2 separate regions of the Homo sapiens genome follow, and region 1 is linked to region 2. Evidence: fine-mapped expression QTL. A gene starts in region 2. The other region holds a variant in brackets. All regions are shown on one strand. Distances are from middle to middle. Region 1 has its middle 86 kb from the start of LINC01739. Region 2 holds the start of FOXD3 (forkhead box D3).

What was found. PIP is the estimated chance that this variant, and not a neighbour inherited with it, causes the effect.
Region 1: its variant is the best candidate, but not a certain one, in a credible set for the expression of FOXD3 in skeletal muscle (GTEx, PIP 0.87).

What each region holds. Positions count from the first base shown.
Region 1 is chr1:63,096,760-63,101,143 of GRCh38, reverse strand. No RefSeq gene overlaps it. Among named protein-coding and RNA genes, the nearest start is that of LINC01739, 86 kb to the right of the region's middle. The variant A/G (reference allele first, on the strand shown) is at 1,662.
Region 2 is chr1:63,320,546-63,324,929 of GRCh38, reverse strand. FOXD3 (forkhead box D3) reads right to left here and starts at 2,363. Exons shown (of 1, transcript NM_012183.3): 1 at 1-2,363. The coding sequence starts at 1,871. The coding sequence ends at 435. FOXD3-AS1 (FOXD3 antisense RNA 1) reads left to right here and starts at 489. Exons shown (of 3, transcript NR_121637.1): 1 at 489-575; 2 at 3,467-3,563; 3 at 3,740-4,046. RefSeq lists an enhancer at 1,233-1,922 and silencers at 2,246-2,325, 2,446-2,755.

The DNA.
Region 1 (4,384 bases), 220 kb after region 2:
ATATATTTTTGGATTGGAAAAGAATGAGCTTTTGAAATCACTGAAGCAGGCAACACAATATAGTAGATAATAACAACAACAACTACTACCAGTTATTGTGAGCATACCAAGTGTCAAGCACTGGGAAAATGTTTTCCCCATGTGATCTCATTTATTCCTATTACAGCATCAGAGAAGGTAAGTAAGTTCCCAAGGTGGTCCAGTTAGTACATTGAGGGCTAGGATTTTAACCTAATTTTCAGGACTCCAAAGACTGTGTTCTTAATAGTTCTAATAATAACCTTCATCATGGGATTGTTATTGGGTCCAAATGATATACACCATATATAGACATGTTTTATAAACACTAAAGCTCTGTATAAATGTCCATTTACTATCATTATCAGAAAGTGATTGACCTGATGACATTCCACAGGGTCAACTGTGCTTCTGGAGGTAACTGAATGCCAGCTCTGTGTATATCTAAAAATTCTGATTATTTTATGCATTTTTTTTTTTTTGGCCTCTGTTTTATTCGAAGAACTGTTTTCTTTTCTCTACACCTGATCTTTCCAAATTAGATCTGTCGACAGGGTGGCTGAATGGTGAGTGGCTCTCCTGTGTCTTTCTAGGGATGCCCCTGCAGAGCCATGCCGAGGATAACTGAGGGAATTATGGAGAGCTGGCCACACTCTGCTTCTATTTGTTTTGAGCCTGGGAAACAGCAGCTGTCCTAAAATCACCCTGATTCAGAATTCTTCCAAACCAGAACACAGCAGATTCACAAGAATCAAGTGATAAAACTCACCACATTCTCATTTCAGAGGGGAGGAAAGAATCCCAAATGTAAATTTCAGTTCTCTGTGTTCCAAGTACCCCCCCTTCCATTCCCTGCCAACATCTTATTGGCATTCGACTTAAAAATGCATTTTCATTTTACATAATGGATTAATCACACCATGGATTTTTTCCTAATTCATGTCCTTAGGACATATATAATATCTGTTATCTAAGAAAATGTTTATTTGTTTTGTTCTATTGCCCAATAAGCTTATTATAAGTTCAGGCTAGTGTGTGTGTGTGTGTGTGTGTGTGTGTGTGTGTGTGTGTTTACACAGAGAATGTACCACATTAAAACCAGGAAAAATTATCTTTTAAATTATTCCTTGATGTAGAGCAAATCAATCCAGTTTCTTATACCTACTGGAGAAGCACAAATGGTGCTGGAACATCTTCAGAGTGGTTTATGCCCTTGGCAGGTCAATCAGAGGGTAGCTGAAACTGAAGAAGTCATACGCCATGGTGCCAGCGGAAATGAAAATTATACCACTCATACTAACGAGTGCATTTCCAAAGGGACTATTTAGCGGTATTAGAAGTCTCTAAGCAGATGCCTCTGAACTTAAAATACACTTAATTCCTAAGAATTGTCTTGTAATTAATTTACCCAGATAGACTCAATGAGGAGAATGTAGGGCAAAGCACCACATTGCTCAGCAGTTTGCAAACTTCAGGGAACACTAAGATAAATAATTTGATTTTTTTAAACTTCTAAATTCATTTCCCTTATAACTGAGAAACAGGAATGGCATACAGTAAAGAAAAGCACTTTCTGATTCTATAATATAATCTCCTTAAAAAAATTCTTACTACTGTAACAGGAAGGATTCCATGGAGCTGAC[A/G]TCAAAAGAATATCACTCATGCTTTGGATATAGCTTTTATGCCTATTAACTTGTCTGTCTGTAAACATTTCATTGAACGTGGGAAGCTAGCTCCTGACTGTTTTAGTTATACACACAGTGCTGTACAGCAACAAACAGCTTTAACATACCTCCCATTAACACAGCTTGTATTTCATGAAGAACAGCCAGGTCTCATGTGACTGCTAACAGCTGTATTTTTCTAGTATTGAGGAATCTAATTTAAAAAGTGTTCAGATTTTTTCGAGGTTTTGGTAAAAATTTGATAAAACAGTTCTATCTCTGGAGGTTAAAGGTACAGTGGTGTGATCTTTGGATGGGCCACTATATCAATGGGGAGGTTCTTTTGTCAAGCCTTTTGGGTTTTTTTTTTTTTTTTCTAGCAGCTTAGACTTTGGACCCACTTGGATCAGAGTCCCAGTCTGGTTCTCTCTTTGACCTTAAGGAAACTTCTTAACCTATATAGGACTCAGTTTAATTACTTATTAAAATAAAATGATGATAATGATAACAATAGGTGGCATTTGAAGGATGGGGAGGTAATGTACATAATTTACCCTAAATAGTGCCTGGTACAGACTCTATAGGTAGTAGTTTATTATTACCATCTGCTTTTACACCAGGTCAGCTTACTCATTTATTCTATCCCTTAAAAGATATTTATCACACACTTCCTCTGTGCCCTGCAGTGTGCATGGCGTTTTTACATATCTCATATCAACCTTATGAGTAGGTTTCATGATCACCATTTCATAGATGCAAATACTGAAGCTCGAAAGGTTAAGGAATGTGCTCAAGGTCATATAGCTGGTAAGGAATGCAGCCAGAGTTGGCACCCACGTCCACCTTTAATAAACCCATATTCGTGTTTACTAGGCATGAAGCACCAAACTAGGCACTAGGGAGACTGAGATGAATGAGACATGCCTCCTCCACTTCCAAAAACATCACCTTCTATTTGGGGTTGAACAGAGCAGAGGGAGCACCAAATAAGCCAGACCATGACAAATTCTATCATTGTGGTATGAAAGAGATGTTCAGGATCATCACAGAGTATGTAACTAACGACGGGAGAAACTGGGAAGGAGGTCACACAGGAGGTGACTTTTGGAGCTGGATCTGGAAAAATGAATGAGATTTAACAGATAAAGAAGGCAATTCCTTGTAGAGGGAATCTGCTACACAAGGCATGAAGGCTTGGGGTATTTGAAGGATGTTGAGGAATCCTGAGTTTACATCCCCACCTCGTGTCCAGTGACACTGGGCTGGTCATTCTCCTTTCGTTTCTTTCCATCTTTCCTTCCTTTCCATCTTTCGTTCCTTTCCATCTTTCCTTCCTTCCTTCTTTTCTTTCTTTTTTTTTTATTATTATACTTTAAGTTTTAGGGTACATGTGCACATTGTGCAGGTTAGTTACATACGTATACATGTGCCATGCTGGTGCGCTGCACCCACTAACTCATCATCTAGCATTAGGTATATCTCTCCATGCTATCCCTCCCCCCTCCCCCATCCTTCTTTTCCTTCTTTCTTTCTTTCTTTCTTTTTCTCTTTCTTTCTTTCTTTCTTTGTTTCTTTCTTTCTTTCTTTCCTTCTTTCTTTCTTCTTTCTTTCTTTCTTTCTTTCTTTCTTTCTCAGTGTCTCACTGTGTCACCCAGGCTGGAGTGCAGTGGTGCAATCATGGCTCACTGCAGCCTCCAATTCCCAGGCTCAATGATCCTCCCACCTCAGCCTCCTAAGTAGCTGGAACTACAGGTGCACATCACCACACCCGGGTAACTTTTGTATTTTTTGGAGAGATGGGGTTTCCCCATGTTGCCCAGGCTGTTCTTGAACTCCTCAGCTCAAGTGATCCACCTGCCTTGGCTTCCCAAAGTGCTGGGATTACAGGCATGAGTCACTGCACCCAGCAGTTATCCACCTTTCTGCCCCTCCATCTGTTGGAATAAAAACACCGGGTGACTATGGAGATCAAAAGATGAGTGCATAGAAAGCATGTAGCACAGTACCTGGTACAATAAAACTGAGCTGCTGTTTTATACCTCGATGTCTTTGCTCATACTGTTCCCTCATGCCGTAGTGTATCACCACCTTCTGAGACCTCCCACCTCAGCTAACTTCTCACCCACTTACTTCCTCTCATTATGGCTCAGCAGAGGGCTAATATGCCCTGGAACGGTGCTTCTCACCTTTGGTGTATAAGCAAATCATCTGGGCATCCTGTTGCCCAGTGCAGATTCTGATTTGGCAGGTCTGGAGTGGGGCTGGCTTTCTCACAAGCCTCCAGCTGCTGCTGCTGCTGCTGGTTGCAGGACCACACTTGAAGGAGTAGGGCACTACACAGTGTTTCCCAGAGTGGCATCTGCATTTCTAGCAAGCTTCCAGTAATGCCAGATCTACTGGTCCACAGACTATACTTTGATGAGTGAGTCTAAAGCACCATATCAATGTCCATTTTTCAGAGTCCTTCAATGAGCAGAGCTTCACCTTTCTTTCCACTCTTTTCTTCTCCTTCACAGAATGATCCGTTCCAGCCAAACTGGACTCATTTGTGTTTTCCTGAGTGCACTGTCTGCACTGCTCTGGACAGCTGTACTTGAACCCTGACCTTCTCTGTGACCCACAGAGGCCTGTGCACACCTCCATCATGGCACTTACCACGCTGTGTTGAAATCCATATTTACATGTCTGTCTCCACTTCCAGA
Region 2 (4,384 bases):
TTCAAAAAAAATGAAAGTTCAGAGCTCTAAATCTACGGAATTTGTTTTTTCTTAAAAAAATAAAAACCCCAAAAGGAAAGTCAATAATTTTTTTACAAATATATACAAAGAATTTCCCTCCCATCCCCACGGTACTAAGAGCAGGCGCCGTCGGGGTGCATTTTTGGAAAATTCGGTTTTCGGTTTTACCTGTATGGAAAGCTATCCCCGGCGGGCGCGCGGTGAGTTTGCTCGACCAGCTTAGGTGTGCGCGAGGGGATGGAGGCCGCGGAAGGTAGGCGTTGGGGGCTCAGGGGAAAGGAAATTGGGGAGAGGCAGAGTCCAGGATTGGGCAGCGGGACCGGGACCGGGCTTGGGACAGGGCGCGCAGCCTGGAGGTGCATTTGTTGCTCGAGGCCGCCGCCGGACCCTGGGTCCCGGCCATTGGCGCGTCCCTATTGCGCCGGCCATTTGGCTTGAGCGGCGGCCGCAGCAGCGGCGGCGGCCGAGGCTGCGGGCTGCAGAAACTGTCCGGAGAGTGGCACGCTAAGAATGGGCGCGATGGTGGCAGTCGTCCGGCTCAGCGACAGCGGTTGGTGGGTGGCCATGAGCGCTGCCGACTGCACGGTCCCGGGTGGCCGCAGAAACGACTGCGCCGTGCTGCCGCCCCCTGAACCCCCAGTGCCGCCGGCGACCCCAGCGCCCACCGCCGAGCCCCCAGGAGCCGCGGGGCCCCCACCTATGATGTTCTCGATGCTGAACGACGGCCGCGCGCTTGGCTCGGACTTGATGAGCGACGCGGTGGTGCCCGCGGCGCCCGCTGTGCCCGCAGCGGCCGCGGCGGCGCCCAGGCTATTGAGCTGCAGCTGCAGGCCCGGGCCGAGCTGTGAGCCGAAGGCGGCCGCTTTGCGGCCCAGCTCGCCCGAGGGCAGCAGCGGCACAGCGGGAGGCAGCACCGGTGCCACCGGCGGCAGCGCGTACGGGTACTGGAGCGCCGCCGCAGCAGCCGCGGCCGCCGCCGCTGCCGGGTGCGAATAGGCACCGGCCGCCGCCGCAGGGTGCAGGCCGTAGGGGCGGCCGTAGGGTCCCGCGGCGCCGGCCGCCGCCGCCAGGCTGTAAGCGCCGAAGCTCTGCATCATGAGCGCCGTCTGCTCGCGCAGGTGCTCCTGCTGGTGGCGCTTGAAGCGTTTCCGGCGCCGCAGGAAGCTGCCGTTGTCGAACATGTCCTCGGACTGCGGGTCCAGGGTCCAGTAGTTGCCCTTGCCCGGGTTGCCCGGCTCGCGGGGGATCTTGACGAAGCAGTCGTTGAGTGAGAGGTTGTGGCGGATGCTGTTCTGCCAGGCGGGGAACTTCTCCCTGTAGTAGGGGAAGCGGTTGCTGATGAACTCGCAGATGCCGCTCAGGGTCAGCTTCTTCTGCGGGCTCTGCAGGATGGCCATGGTGATGAGCGCGATGTACGAGTAAGGCGGCTTCACTAGGCTGTTCTTGGGCTTGCTCGGGGCCAGGCCTCCCGCCGAACCGCTGCCCGCGCCAGGCCCGCCGCCGCTCGCGCCGCCCTCCTCGCCGCCAACACCGCCCTTGCAGCCGTCCGCCTCCGGCGCGCCCACGTCGCCCCCCGGTCCGGCCCCGGCTCCGGCCGCCTCCTTGGGCAATGTCAGGGGCTGCTGGTGGGGCGGCTGAGGCTGTCCGTGATGGGGTGCCGCCGGGGGCACCTCGTCCGCCTCGTCCAGGCGCAGCTCCGGCGGCCCCGCGGGGCTATCGCAACCTGCGTCGCTGTCCTTCTCTTCCAGCCCGTCGTCGCCCTCGCCCACCACATCGATGTCCACGTCCTCGGCCGTCAGCACCGTCTGGCCGGACATGTCGCTGGCGCTGCCGCCGCCGGAGAGGGTCATCCCTCCTCGGGGTTGGTAGCGGCGGCGGGGAGGGGGCAGCGGGCGATGAGGGTGTTCGGGGGCTGCCACGGAGCTCAGGGGAAGAGGGTTTGAGTGCCCCCGAAAGATGGGGGGCAGGGAGAGGGGAGGGGGCCGCAGGTGGCTTGGGGCCCGCTGGGCTCAGCTCACACTCGGCGGCCCCGCATCGCGTGGCGCGGGCTCTGCCGTCCGCCCCCAGCGGCCGCGCTCCGCGAACTCCTGCCGTCCCTGGCGCTCGGTACTAGGCGCTCGCTACCGCTCCCGGCCCCGGCGGTTCTCCACGCCGCGCCCCCTCACTTAGCCCGCCTTCCTCGGCCTCTGGCCCTGGCGTGGGGCGCAGGAGCGGTCCAGGCGGGCGCGGGACGCCGGGCGCCGAGCAGCTCGGGAGGGCGCGGGCAGGGACAGTAGCGGGGGGGCAGGGGGCTGGGTGTCAGGGACGCCGAAGCCCCGGTAGTCGAAAGTCCCGTTTTAAGGACTGGCCTGATAGATTACTTTCTACTTAAAGATCCAGCGGGAGGCGGGGCCACGTGACCGTGCGTGACGTCAGGGCCGCGGCCGAGCCGGCCAAACTCAAGTTGGTTCAGGGAATTGTCAACAAAGGGACGAGAGACGCGCAACTCCGCTCCGCACTGTGCGCCAGCATCCCCGGGGCACGGAGGGCGCTGCGGCCCGCCCGGAGACCCCCCCACCCAGGCTGGATCCGGGCCCTGGGGCCCAGGGAGCGGGTGGGTGTGAGTGTGGGTGGGTGTGAGCGAGTCAGGGCGTGGGCCTGGGAGCGTCCGCGGGACTGTGCGACTGTCGCTGCCCTGCCTTCCCCGCCCCCTCTCCCTTCCGCCCTTCTCCCCCCCACTTTGTCACACTCCTTAGACAGGGACTGGGCGACCTAGAACGAGGTTCCCATATCGTGTTTTAAAAAGCAAAACTTAGTCTCTGTTTTGCTTTTTGTTTCATTGTTTTTAGCTTTAAAGAGTAAGAGCAGCGCACCCGGCTCCCTCCTGCTAATTAGATTTCAGATTCCCCTCTGGCCTCAGTGCTCATTCCGGGGAAGACACCTGCTGAGATGTCTTTTTCCCCCTCCCCCAACCAAACCACTCAGGTCCTACCTGCTCTTTCCCGGCTTGATGCGGGCGTGTTTTCCTGTATGTATTTTTTCGTGCGGCCACAAAAAGCATCAGCTGGGGTTCCCGAAGGTCAGAAAATGGCTATTGATTAATCTACTAGAATAGTTGCCGAGAGAAATAAAAACGACGTAAAATAGCAGGGAACCTATAAATAAAGAAGCCATAACTGGCTACTTGGAGTTGTTAAACGACTTAGCATATGAAAAAATCGGAAATGAGGCGCTGGGGAAGGAGCTGGGATTGGCAGCGGCCTGGGTAAGTCGAGTGGATCCGGGAAGAGGCCTGGTGTCTTCAGGTTAGACGCAGCGCCCAGGGGCGGCTGAAGAAACGTGAGGGGTGCGGGCAGTGACTTCCCGGGCGGCGGGCATGGCCTTGGGGGAACCTGGGCAGACTTGGGCATGCCAGCATGCTGGGATCTCCGTTGCTGCCAGCTAACGTGGATTTTCTTCTCTTAAGGTGTGGACAAATCCTCCAAGATTTAACTTCCAAGAAAACCGGCGGCGGAGCGGGTGGAGGAGGCGAGGATGTGTGGCCAATGCACGCGGAGTGCAAGGCAAGTCAGTGATAGTAGGAAAAACTGTGGGGATTTCACTGGGACTGGAGGGGGAGGCACCGCAAACCGACCCCCAAGTGCGTGGCTGGGGTGCGTGGACCTCACACCTCCAAGGAAAGTCAGTGCTCTTGACGCGGTGAATCAGCGATGCGCCTCCTCTTTCCTCCCTCATTTAGGCCGCCTAGTTGGGAGCCGCAAGAGCCTGCCTGGTGTGGCAGGCACACGGAACCCAATCCCTGTCTGTCCGCTGCGGCCTGGGAGGGGAGCGCCGGCCTCACCAGAGGAAGGAGCACGAGGGGAGGAGTTCCGAGAGGAAATAATTAGTGAAATATTTGCAGAAGATGCTGGGATGTGGATTTAATTCCGGATGGACAGTGGTGCTTCTGATTCCCTCAGTCTGTTTCCCCACCCACGATCTCCTCTTTCCTTGGCCTAGACACACCAAAAATAATTCAATAAAATAAAAATAAAAATTTAAAAATCTGTAAACTTGCTTCATTACAGGCATTGAGACACACAGATTGACTTTCATCCCCATTAGACAGTTTCCCAGGATATAACACTACTCATCTGAGGCTGGGAGCAGGGTAGGGGGTGGTGACACTATCCTGAGACGCCCGCCAACCTCCACAGTTTTTCTTTATCTAAATGATCCCGAGGTTGCACACGGCCCTAAAACGCATCTCAGAGTTGATTTCCGTAGCTCCACAGCTTTGTGGCCCGCAGGCTCCGAACCGTTTACAATGCCGTCTAGACAGCTTTCCGCGAAACCGACCCGAGCTGAGCTGGCTGGCCATCGCCCAGGACTGCAGAGGTCGCGT